Regions from separate parts of the Homo sapiens genome. Here region 2 is linked to region 1. The links come from fine-mapping of genetic effects on gene expression. A gene starts in region 1. The other region holds a variant in brackets. All regions are shown on one strand. Distances are from middle to middle.

Region 1 (5,369 bases):
AGGGGGCTGAGGTGGGAGGATCACTTGATCCCAGGAGGTTGAGGCTGTAGTGAGCCATGATTGCACCACTACACTCCAACCTTGGTGACAAAGTGAGACCCTGTCTCAAAAAAAAAAAAAAAAGACAGAGGCAGATGTCCTAGAATAGCGTGGCTGAGGTCAAGGCCGAATGGAGAAGAGAGGTCCTTTGTAGGGGAATGGAGAGCAGGCTCTAAATGTTAAGGGCTTTGAATGCCAGGATAAGTAAGGTTAGACTTTACCCTGATGGTACACAGGAAGTCCTTGGCAGTTTTATGTAAGACAGCAACCCAACCCCATTTGTATTTTACAGACCTGATGATCCCAAAGGATTTGGATTCTAGAAAAAAGACAATCACCAGGCACGGTGGCTCATGCCTGTAATCCTAGCACTTTGGGAGGCTGAGGTGGGTGGATCACTTGAAGTCAGGAGTTTGAGACCAGCCTGGCCAACATGATGAAACCCCGTCTGTAGTAAAAATACAAAAATTAGCCAGGCATAGTGGCACACGCCTGTAATCCCAGCTACTCAGGAGGCTGAGCCAGGAGAATCACTTGAACCCCGCAGGCAGAGGTTGCGGTGAGGCAAGATCGTGCCATTGCACTCCAGGCTGGGCAGCAGAGCAAGACTCTGTCAAAAAAAGAAGGAAGGTAGGAAGGCAGGAAGGAAGGAAAGAAGAAAGGAAGGAAGGAAGGGCGGGGAGAGAAAAAGAAAGAAAGGAGAAGAGAAGAGAAGAAAAGAAAAGAGAAAAAAGACAATCTAGACAGAGGCAGGAGGCCGACAAGTTAAGAACTGAAACAATATTCTCAATGGTAGAGGTTGCCAACCTATGGTCTGGGGGCCAGATTTGTCTGCAAAGTGTGTTTCATTTGGCCCATTCAATATTTCCGAATTTTGGGAATTCGTTTCAAACATTTAAAAGTTGGAAGATTTCTGGATGTCCTGCTTCTCTTTGAATATCATCCAGCCACGCACAGCCCACGATGTCTCCAGTTCCCCTCTTCTCCACCCTCTCTATCACTTTACATGCGACCCCAGTCGCTCATGTCTGCGCCTGTAGGTACTTGCGTTTGCAATCCCTGGCTCCTAAAGCTCTGGAAACAGTCGGGAGTGGCTGGGAGGATTACGCTGGGTTGAGAAAACAGCCTGATCAAAAACTTAGAAGAAATAGGGGCAGTCATAAAAAATGATGAGTTCATGTCCTTTGTAGGGACATGGATGAAGCTGGAAACCATCATTCTCAGCAAACTATCGCAAGGACAAAAAACCAAACACCGCATGTTCTCACTCATAGGTGGGAATTGAACAAAGAGAACACATGGACACAGGAAGGGGAACATCACACACCAGGGACTGTTGTGGGGTGGGGGGAAGGGGGAGGGATAGCATTAGGAGATATACCTAATGCTAAATGACGAGTTAATGGGTGCAGCACACCAACATGGCACACGTATACATACGTAACAAACCTGCATGTTGTGCATATGTACCCTAAAACTTAAAGTATAATAATAATTAAAAAAAAGAATGAAAAAGAAATGCTTTTGAAGCTTGAAGCTAAAAAAACAAAAAAAAAAGAAAGAAATAGGGAAGGCGTCCTATTGGGGCTTTCTCACTAGGGAAAGAGTGAGCTGCAGGGAGGAGAAAGAACAGGGCCTGGAAGGACGAGCTGTCCCTATCTCATCTCTGTCCCCATCCACCCACTTCATCCAGGCCACCAATTTCCGGTTATCAAACAGACAATGCAACATCCCTTACACCTGCTGTACCTCTGCCTAGAATCTCCTTTCTTCCCTTCTATCCGGCGAGCAGTTCCTCCCAGCTGCACTCCTGGACTAGTCACTGCCTATTTGCAGCAGGGATCGCAAAGGCGACCTCAGTTGGATAGGGCAACCACCCAGGCCCAAGTTTATGACCTCTTCCCCAAGAAGACTGTGAGTTCTCTGACGTCTCGCTGGAAATAGGATGCATGGATGGATGGATGGATGGATGGACGGACGGATGGATGGATGGATGGAAGCGCAGGCAGGCAGGCGGACGCATGGATGAATGAAATGCATATCCGAATGCAGAACCTGGATTTGTTTTCCCTCCTTCAAACACACACAGGCTCCGCCCCACTAGCACAGACCGGGACAGTCTGGGGCAGTCTCGTCCCGCAGGGCCCAGAAAGCTGGACCAGGTGACCCTCTCAGACTCCCCCGAGTCCTCTGTAACCTCGTTCTCGCCCCCTCGTGGGCTCTGACCTAGAAAAGGAGTGGGGTGGGTGGGGGGTGGGGGGTGGGAGCCAGCTCGGGAGCCACCGGCGCTAGGACCCAGCGCGGCCGGAAGGGGGTGGGGGCGCCGCGCGGGGAGAATCTGCGCTCCGCGGCGCGCGGCGGGAGGGCGGGCGCGCGGCGGGTGAGCGCGCTTGCGCGAGGGCGCGCGCCGAGCGGGACGGACAAAGGGGCGGGCGGCGGCGCGCGAGCCGGAGGGCGGAGCCGCGGGCCGGGCGGGCAGGTGCGCGCTGGCTGGAGGGCGGAGCCGCGATGCCGCGATGGAGCGCAGCCCGGGCGGGCGCCGGGGCCGGGGCCCGAGCGCCAGGCGGAGCGCGAGCTGGAGCCGCAGCCGGAGCCCGGGCCAGGCCGGGGGCCGGGAGCGCAGGGCCGGGCTGCTCGTAGCGGCGGCGACCGAGCCCCCCAGCGGCTGAGGGGCTTCCAGCGCCCGCCGGTGGCCGGGACCCACTAAAGCCCCCGCAGCCGAGGAGTGCGGGGAGCCCCCTTCCACATCCAGGATCCGGCGAGCCTCGGGGAAGAGGGGGGGCCCTCCCGGATCCGACACCGAGCGACTCCCCTGCGGGGAAAGCGGAGACTTCCTCGGTATTTAGAAGACAGCAAGCCCCCTACGGCACCGCAAGGACTCCCCCTCCTCAGTCTGGGCCCCCGCCCCAAGACCTAGAACGCAGTGCCCCCAGGCCGGGATTGCGAGAACCCCCTCCCAAGATCCGGTCATTACAACTCCACACCTCAAGACAAGAAGACCCAGCTCAGAACGCCCCTAGATCAGGGGATCCCAATTCCCCCCAACTCCGGTACATAGAAATCCCAAATCTAGGCAGCCGGGGACAGCAAGAGACACTCTCACCAGCAAGAAGCCTCGGGGATCCCCCCCCTAAAGCTCCAGGACTTGGGCGACTGAGCCCCTGGCGGCACCGCTTGCACCCCGGTCCATGGTCGTGGCGCCCTGAGCCCCCGGGGCCGGGCAGACGAAGACCGCGACGGCGCCCAGGCCCCCTGCCGCGGCGTCCCCGCGGCCCCAGCCCAGGTAAGCCGGGCCCAGGTGAGGGGCGGCAGGTGAGTGGCCACCGAGGTCCCCATAGCCCTGCAGGTGGGGAAGGAAGTATCGGGTTGCGCGCTCCCCCTTCCCCAGCGTCGCCATGGAGCCGAGGCTGAAGGACGTCTCTTTGTGTCTCGCTTGGAGGAGCCGCCCCCTCCTCCTCTCCCTTCCCCCACCCCACTCCCTAGCCTTGAGGCTCGGGCGCAGCTCCCCGGCCCCACGGAGGAGTGGTGGTGGAGCCCGTTGTGCCATGGAGAGGGGGGAAGAGGGCGGAGAGTCCCCCCCCAAAAGCTGCGAGCCTGGAGGTTGGCCCCCAGGTCCTTGGAGTGTGAATACCCCTCCCCCACGGCCAAGCTGAGCTTCTAGTGAAGTCCCCCCGAGAGGGGAAAATTTGGGGGTGCCCACAGGTGAGGGGGGCTGCCTTATGTGGCCCTGGGTGATGGCTGGGGCTTCGGGTGTGTGTCTTTGTCTGTGAGAGTGCGGGGAAGGGGTGTGTTTGAGCGGATGAATGGGAATCGCATCTTCCCTGTGACTCTGCTGCCCGACCCAGGCCACACTGGCGGTCTTTACCTAAACCATACTTTGTACTCCCTGTGGGACAGGGAGGGAGTAAGTACCCCCCAAAGTGAGGCGCTAGTTTCTGGGGAGGAGAGGTAGCCTAGATGAAGAAGCTATTTCAGGTCAGGGCACCGTTCTGTTCCCATTTGTCCCAGGGACAGCAACCCAAGTCTTTCCCTTCCCCTCCTAACCTGGAGAACACCCAGGTTAAACCAAGGGTTGGCTCAATGTGTCCCAGACAACCAAGGGCCAATTCCAGGGTCTCACTGTGGCTTTCCAGGTGGTACACACGGCCGTACCCCAGCCTGGCCCTCAGTGAGGTCCTGAACCCCAGGCTCTACCGCATATGAGGAAGCCGAGAGACCCTAGGGGACATTGTACCCTGAAATCCTGAATCAGATCCTGAGAAGGGGCTGGACTGCATGGAAAGAACACACTCTGGGCTGCTGGGAGTTCCTCTCATCTCTTCTCTCTGAGCCTTCTGCAGACAAGCAGTGATGCTGGACCCATTTGATAGGTGCACAAACTGAGGCTCGGGAAGGCAGGACCCAGGATACAGCTAGCCCTGCCAGTAGCTCCTTCACTTATTCATTCAACAAACCTGTCGCCAATGTCTGTGATGGACCATGCGCTAGAGTCAGGGTCCTTTTCCCCACTTCATTCCTATCTCCTTTCTTGATGTCTCCTGATCATCAGACCCCTGGGCACGTCCCATTGGGCCTGTTGAAGTGGACCGGGCCAGGTCCAGCTGAGAGATTCTTGACCCTACACCTGAAGCAGCTGATCCCTGTCCTGCTACAGCCTTGGGAGCCCTGAGCCTGGGTGGCTGACTCCTCATCTCCCACCTTCCCAGCACCAAGTGCCCCCACCCCCACCTGCTGCTGGCACTGACCCAAGGGTGAGGATGTGACCAGCTGGAGACGAGGGTAGGGGGCACTTGATGCGGGCAGACCTCTGGCAGCCTCTCCTGCCAATTTCAGGACAGTTGAGGCAGCCACCTTCAGCACAGGCTGTGGGGGAATCAGGTGCCCTGAAGACTGAGTGACCTTGGGCAAGCACGTGGCCCTTCCCAGAGAAAATGACAGAGAGTGAGCCTCTCTGCAGCTTGAAGGGCGGATGGAGATCGAAATTGGGCAGGACAAGCATCCAGGTTTGCTCTACCCATTGCTGAAGGAGTTCATTTCCCCCCAGTGGGGGTTCCCAGAAGCCCAGGGCTTTGTCACACACCCCACAGGCAAGGCAGTGGAACCAGAGGCTGAAGAGCAGAAATTTGAGTCACTGTGTCCAGGGCAAACTGTGAGGAGGCCAGAGGAGGACAAGGAGCAAGACCTCCCCTCCTCACTAACCTGCAGTGGCTCTCCATTGAGTCCAGAATCAAGTCGCTGAGTCCAGATAGTCTCTGGACTGCAGCCTGGCCCTAAACCACCTCTCCTAGCCCATCTCCTCCGTGTCCTCTAATTCTCTGCCTCCGTCACGT
Region 2 (5,369 bases), 22 kb before region 1:
ATTGCTTGAGGCCAGGAGTTCAAGACCAGCCTGAGCCACATAGCAAGACCTTGTCTCTAAAAAAAGGTAAAAATTAACCAGGCGTGGTGGTGTGCACCTGTAGTCCCAGCTACTTGGGGGGCTGAGGTGGGAGGATTGCTTGAGCCTAGGAGTTTGAGACCAGCCTGGGCAACATGGTGAGACCCCATCTTTATAAAACAGTTTTGTTCATTCCTGGAGGTCCCTCTCCCTGTCAAATAGCATCCAGTTTTTGTTTCATAGTTATAGTATATTTTCTTAAATATCTAAATATAGTAGTAACAGTTCTGGGGGTTTTTTGGTTTTTGTTTTTGTGTAGAGATAGAGTCTCACCCTGTCAACTAGGCTGGAGTGCAGTGGTGGGATCAGGGCTCACTGCAGCCTCCACTTCTGGGGTTCAAGCAATCCTCCTACCTCAGCCTCCTGAGTAGCTGAGATCATAGGTGTGCACCACCACACCTGGCTAATTTTTAAAAATGGGTTTTTTTTTTTTTTGTAAAGATGGGTCTCACTATGTTGCCCAGAAATCAAAACTATTGGCCAGGCTCGGTGGCTCATACCTGTAATCCCAGCACTTTGGGAGGCTGAGGCGGGTGGATCACCTGAGGTCAGGAGTTCGAGACCAGCCTGGCCAAAATGGCAAAACCCTGTTTCTACTAAAAATACAAAAATTAATCAGGCATGGTGGCACGTGCCTGTAGTCCCAGCTACTCAGAAGGCTGAGACACGAGAATTGCTTGAACCTGGGAGGCGGAGGTTGCAGTGAGCCGAGATCGCACCACTGCACTCCAGTCTGGGTGACAGAGCGAGACTCTGTCTCGAAAAAAAAAGAAAGAAGGAAAAAAGAGCTAGGCAGCCACTTTGGTGTTGATCCAGCAGTCTTGGCCAACCTATAGAGAAGCTCAAGAGCAAACATTGTCCAGGAGAGGAGCTCCAGTGTCCCCACTGTCCCCACTGTCCTCAGTCATTGGCTGGAGCTGCCCAACAAGACCTTAGTTTTGGCTCAACTGCTGTGGCAGATCTCAAAGACAGTGTAGTTGAAGGCTGTCAGCCAACTGCAATCCTCAAAGCCAAATAGCAAGTTCTTTCCTTTTTTTTTTTTTTTTTTTGAGATGGAGTCTTGCTCTGTCACCCAGGCTGGAGTGCAAGGGTGCAATCTTGGCTCACTGCAACCTCTGCCTCCTGGGTTCAAGCGATTCTCCTGCCTCAGCCTCCTGAGTAGCTGGGATTAAAAGCGCCCGCCACCATGCCTGGCTCACTTTTGTATTTTTTAGTAGAGGTGGGGTTTCACCATGTTAGTCAGGCTGGTCTCGAATTCCCGACCACAGGTGATTCACCAGCCTCGGCCTCCCAAAGTGCTGGGATTACAGGTGTGAGCCACCATGCCTGGCCTGCAAGTTCTTTCTTGAAAGGAGAACCAAGCAGCCACCTCCATGACTACTACAGATGGGAAATAGGAAAGAAAGGGTATGAAGATTAGAGGATCAGTGCAGGCATCCCACATCTGAACAAAGGAGCTCCAGAAAGACAGTAGAGAGGAGAGGAAATAGTCAAAAAAATGTTTCCACTATTTCTTAGAACTGAAGGGCCTGAGTTTCCTGATTAAAAGAGCCCACGGAGTGACCATCCAAAGGATAAAAATAGGCTGGGTGTGGTGGCTCATGCCTGTAATCCCAGCACTTTGGGAGGCCGAGGCAGCAGGATCAGTTGAGGTCAGGAGTTTGAGACCAGCCTGGCCTGTATGGTAAAATCCCATCTCTACTAAAAATACAAAAAAAAAAAAATTAGCTGAGAGTGGTGGCACGCACCTGTAGTCCCAGCTACTCTCAAGGCTGAGGCACGAGAATCGCTTGAACTCGGGAGGTGGGGGTTGCAGTGAGCCAAGATTGCACCACTGCACTCCAGCCTGGGTGACAGAGCAAGACTCCGTCTCAAACAAACAAACAAACAAAAACAAAGGATAAAAATAGACTCATGCCAAAGCCAATCGCCAGTAAATTTCAAGACACTGGGACAAGAAGAAAATTCTCCAAAATTGTATAGAGTATCAAGAATCATAATGGCATCGGACTTCTCAACAGCAATCCTGGAAACGAGAAGACAATGAACTATGTTTTTTCCATTTTTGTTTTTGTTTTTTTGAGACACAGTCTTGTGCTCTGTCGCCAGGCTGGAGTGCAGTGGCGTGATCTCCACTCAACCTCCGCCTCCCAGGTTCAAGCGATTCTCCTGCCTCAGCCTCAAGAGTAGCTGGGACTACAGGCGCACACCCCCACAGCCAGATAATTTTTGTATTTTTAGTAGAGATGAGGTTTCACCATGTTGGCCAGGATGGTCTCGATCTCTTGATCTCGTGATCCACCCACCTCGGCCTCCCAAAGTGCTGGAATTACAGGCGTGAGCCACCACGATCTGCCGGAACTATGTTTCCAAAAGTAGAAAAGAAAATTATTTTCAGCCTAG[AATTATT/A]ATTATTATTATTATTATTATTATTATTACTAAAGACAGGGTTTTGCTCTGTCACCCAGGCTACAGTGCAGTGGCACAATCATGTCTCACTGCAGTCTCAACCTCCTGAGCCCAAATGATCCTCCTATCTGAGCCTCCTGGGTACCTGGGACCACAGGCAGTGCCACCACACCCGGCCAATTTTTTAATTTTTGTAGAAACAGGGTTTTACCATGTTGCCCAGGCTGGTCTTGAACTCCTGGCTCAAGTGATCCTCCCATTTCAGCCTCCCAAAGTGCTGGGATTACAGGCATGAGCCACTGTGCCCAGCCCTCAGCATAGAATTCAATACTTAGCCAAACTACTAATAAAGTGAGAGTAGAAAAAACAATATTTTCAGATTGGCAAGAGCTCAAAAATTTTACCTCCTATGCACCCTTTCTTATTTATTTATTTATTTATTTATTTATTTATTTATTTATTTATTTTTTGAGACGGAGTCTTGCTCTGTTGCCCAGGCTGGAGTGCAACAGCGTGCTCTCCGCTCACTGCAAGCTCCGCCTCCCGGGTACATGCCATTCTCCTGCCTCAGCCTCCCGAGTAGCTGGGACTACAGGCGCCCGCCACCACGCCTGGCTAATTTTTTGTACTTTTAGTAGAGACGGGGTTTCACCATGTTAGCCAGGATGGTCTCGATCTCCTGACCTTGTGATCCACCCGTCTCAGCCTCCCAAAGTGCTGGGATTACAGGCGTGAGCCACTGCACCCGGCCTACGCACCCTTACTTGAGAAAGCTACTGGAGGATGTACTCCACTAAAATAAGGGAGTAAACCAAGTAAAACAAGAAATAGTAAACAAGAAAAACAATAAAGAGTAAGACCTGGGCCAGGAGTAGTGGCTCACACCTGTAATCTTAGCACTTTAGGAGGCCAAAGCAGGCAGATCACCTGAGGTCGGGAGTTGAAGACCAGCCTGGCCAACATGGTGAAACCCCATTTCTACTAAAAATACAAAAATTAGCTGGGCATGGTGGCACACGCCTGTAATCTCAGCTACTTGGGAGGCTGAGACAGGAGAATCACTTGAACCTGGGAGGCGGAGGTTGCAGTGAGCCAAGATCACACCACTGCACTCCAGGCTGGGTGACAGAATGCGACTCCGTCCCCCCACCCCCAAAAAAGAGAGTAACATCTGGACTCCAGGAAACAGGAATTGAATGTAAGAGAGAGGAGAAGAGAATCTCGCAGTTCACACTCAAATAAGAGAAGAGATCTCTTCAAGGAGATGAAATTGATAGAATACCTAATGTTTTTGAATTTTGGAGACATTTACACAAGTAGGGGAGAATATGGGTTGACTGATATATAAACATGTAGGTAAACAAGTACTCCCCTCTCCAAAAAATGTTATCAAATCCAGGAAAACCGAAACTTTTGAACAGAAAAGGGAAAGAAATTTAAAATGAAAATTTCTGCCCTGCAAAAGACTCTGCCAAGAGAATGTGAAGAGAAGCCACAGAATGGCAGAAAATATCAAGTGCTCCTTGGTATTTACCCAAATAAGTTGAAAATTTATGCCCACAGAAAATCCTGCACATGAATATTTGCTAGTTTCGTTTTACTGTGGTAAGGACACTTAATGAAATTTGTCCTCCTAACATATTTTTAAATGTACAATACATGTATAATACATGGTTGTTTTTTTGAGACATGGTCTTACTCTGTTACTGAGGCTGGAGTACAATCACAGCTCACTGCAGCCTCCATCTCCTGGGCTCAAGCAATCCTCCATCCTCAGCCTCCAGAGTAGCTGGGACTACAGATGCATGCCACCATGTCCAGTTAATTTTTAAATTTTTTATAGGGACAGAGTTTCGCTATGTTGTCCAGGCTGGTTTCGAACTCCTGGGCTCAAGTGGTCCTCTAGCCTCAGCCTCCCAAAGTGCTGGGATTCCAGGTGTGAGCCCCTGGTACAGAGTTACACAGCAGCTCTTTAGAGCTTATTCATCTTGCTTTATTGAATCTTTATGCCTACTGATGAGCTATTCCCCAATTTCTTCTGCAACTCTGACAACTATAGAACCAAAATCTAGGAATTAGACTTCTTTAGATATCCCATATAAGTGGAATTATGAGATATGTGTCCTTCTGTGGCTTATTTTGCTTTGCATAATGTCCTTGAGTTTCATCTATGTTGTCACATATTTTTTTTCTTTCTTTCTTTCTTTCTTTTTTTTTTTTTTTTTTTTGAGACGGAGTCTCACTCTGTCACCCAGGCTGGAGTGCAGTGGCATGATCTTGGCTCACTGCAACCTCTGCCTCCCAGGTTCAAGCGATTCTTCTGCCTCAGCCCCCTGAGTAGCTGGGACTACAGGCATGCCCCACCACGCCTGGCTAATTTTTGTATTTTTAGTAGAGATAGGGTTTCACCATATTGGCCAGGCTGGTCTCGAACTCCTGACCTTGTGATCCACCCACTTCGGCCTCCCAAAGTGCTGGGATTACAGGCGTGAGCCACCATGCCTGGCCTGTCATCGCATATTTTTAAGGCTTAATTGTAGTAGTCCCTGTTGCATGTATAGATCACATTTTTTTCATCCATTCAACCCATTTGGGTTATTTCTACATTTGGCTATTGTGAATATTGTTGTAAAGAACACAGGAGTGCTAATACCATTTTGAGAATTATTTTTTTCTTTTTTTAGAGACAGGGTCTCATTATGTTGCCCAGGCTGGTCTCGAACTCATGGCCTCAAGCAGTCCCTTCACTTTGAACTCCCAAAGTGCTGGATTAAAGGTGTGAGCCACCGCACCTGGCCTCTCTTTCAGATTTTTTTTTTTTCTTTTGAGACAGAGTTTCTTTCTTATTGACCAAGCTAGAGTGCAATGGCGCAGTCTCGGCT

Which allele goes with the higher level. Positions count from the first base shown, and alleles are read on the strand shown. Sizes are in standard deviations (SD) of each study's normalised expression.
In carriers of allele AATTATT in region 2, the expression in Th2 cells of the gene that starts at base 2,547 in region 1 tends to be higher than with A alone (large effect, 0.76 SD a copy in Schmiedel 2018).

What was found. PIP is the estimated chance that this variant, and not a neighbour inherited with it, causes the effect. A credible set is the group of variants that fine-mapping cannot tell apart.
Region 2: its variant is the best candidate, but not a certain one, in a credible set for the expression of SBK1 in Th2 cells (Schmiedel 2018, PIP 0.62).

The regions. Positions count from the first base shown.
Region 1 is chr16:28,289,979-28,295,347 of GRCh38, forward strand. It overlaps SBK1 (SH3 domain binding kinase 1), which reads left to right and starts at 2,547. Exons shown (of 4, transcript NM_001024401.3): 1 at 2,547-3,322. LOC124903670 (a long non-coding RNA gene) reads right to left here and starts at 2,087. Exons shown (of 2, transcript XR_007065033.1): 1 at 1,789-2,087. RefSeq lists silencers at 2,039-2,210, 2,418-2,647.
Region 2 is chr16:28,267,925-28,273,293 of GRCh38, forward strand. It overlaps a transcript of SBK1 not described here. Among named protein-coding and RNA genes, the nearest start is that of SBK1, 22 kb to the right of the region's middle. The variant AATTATT/A (reference allele first, on the strand shown) is at 2,482.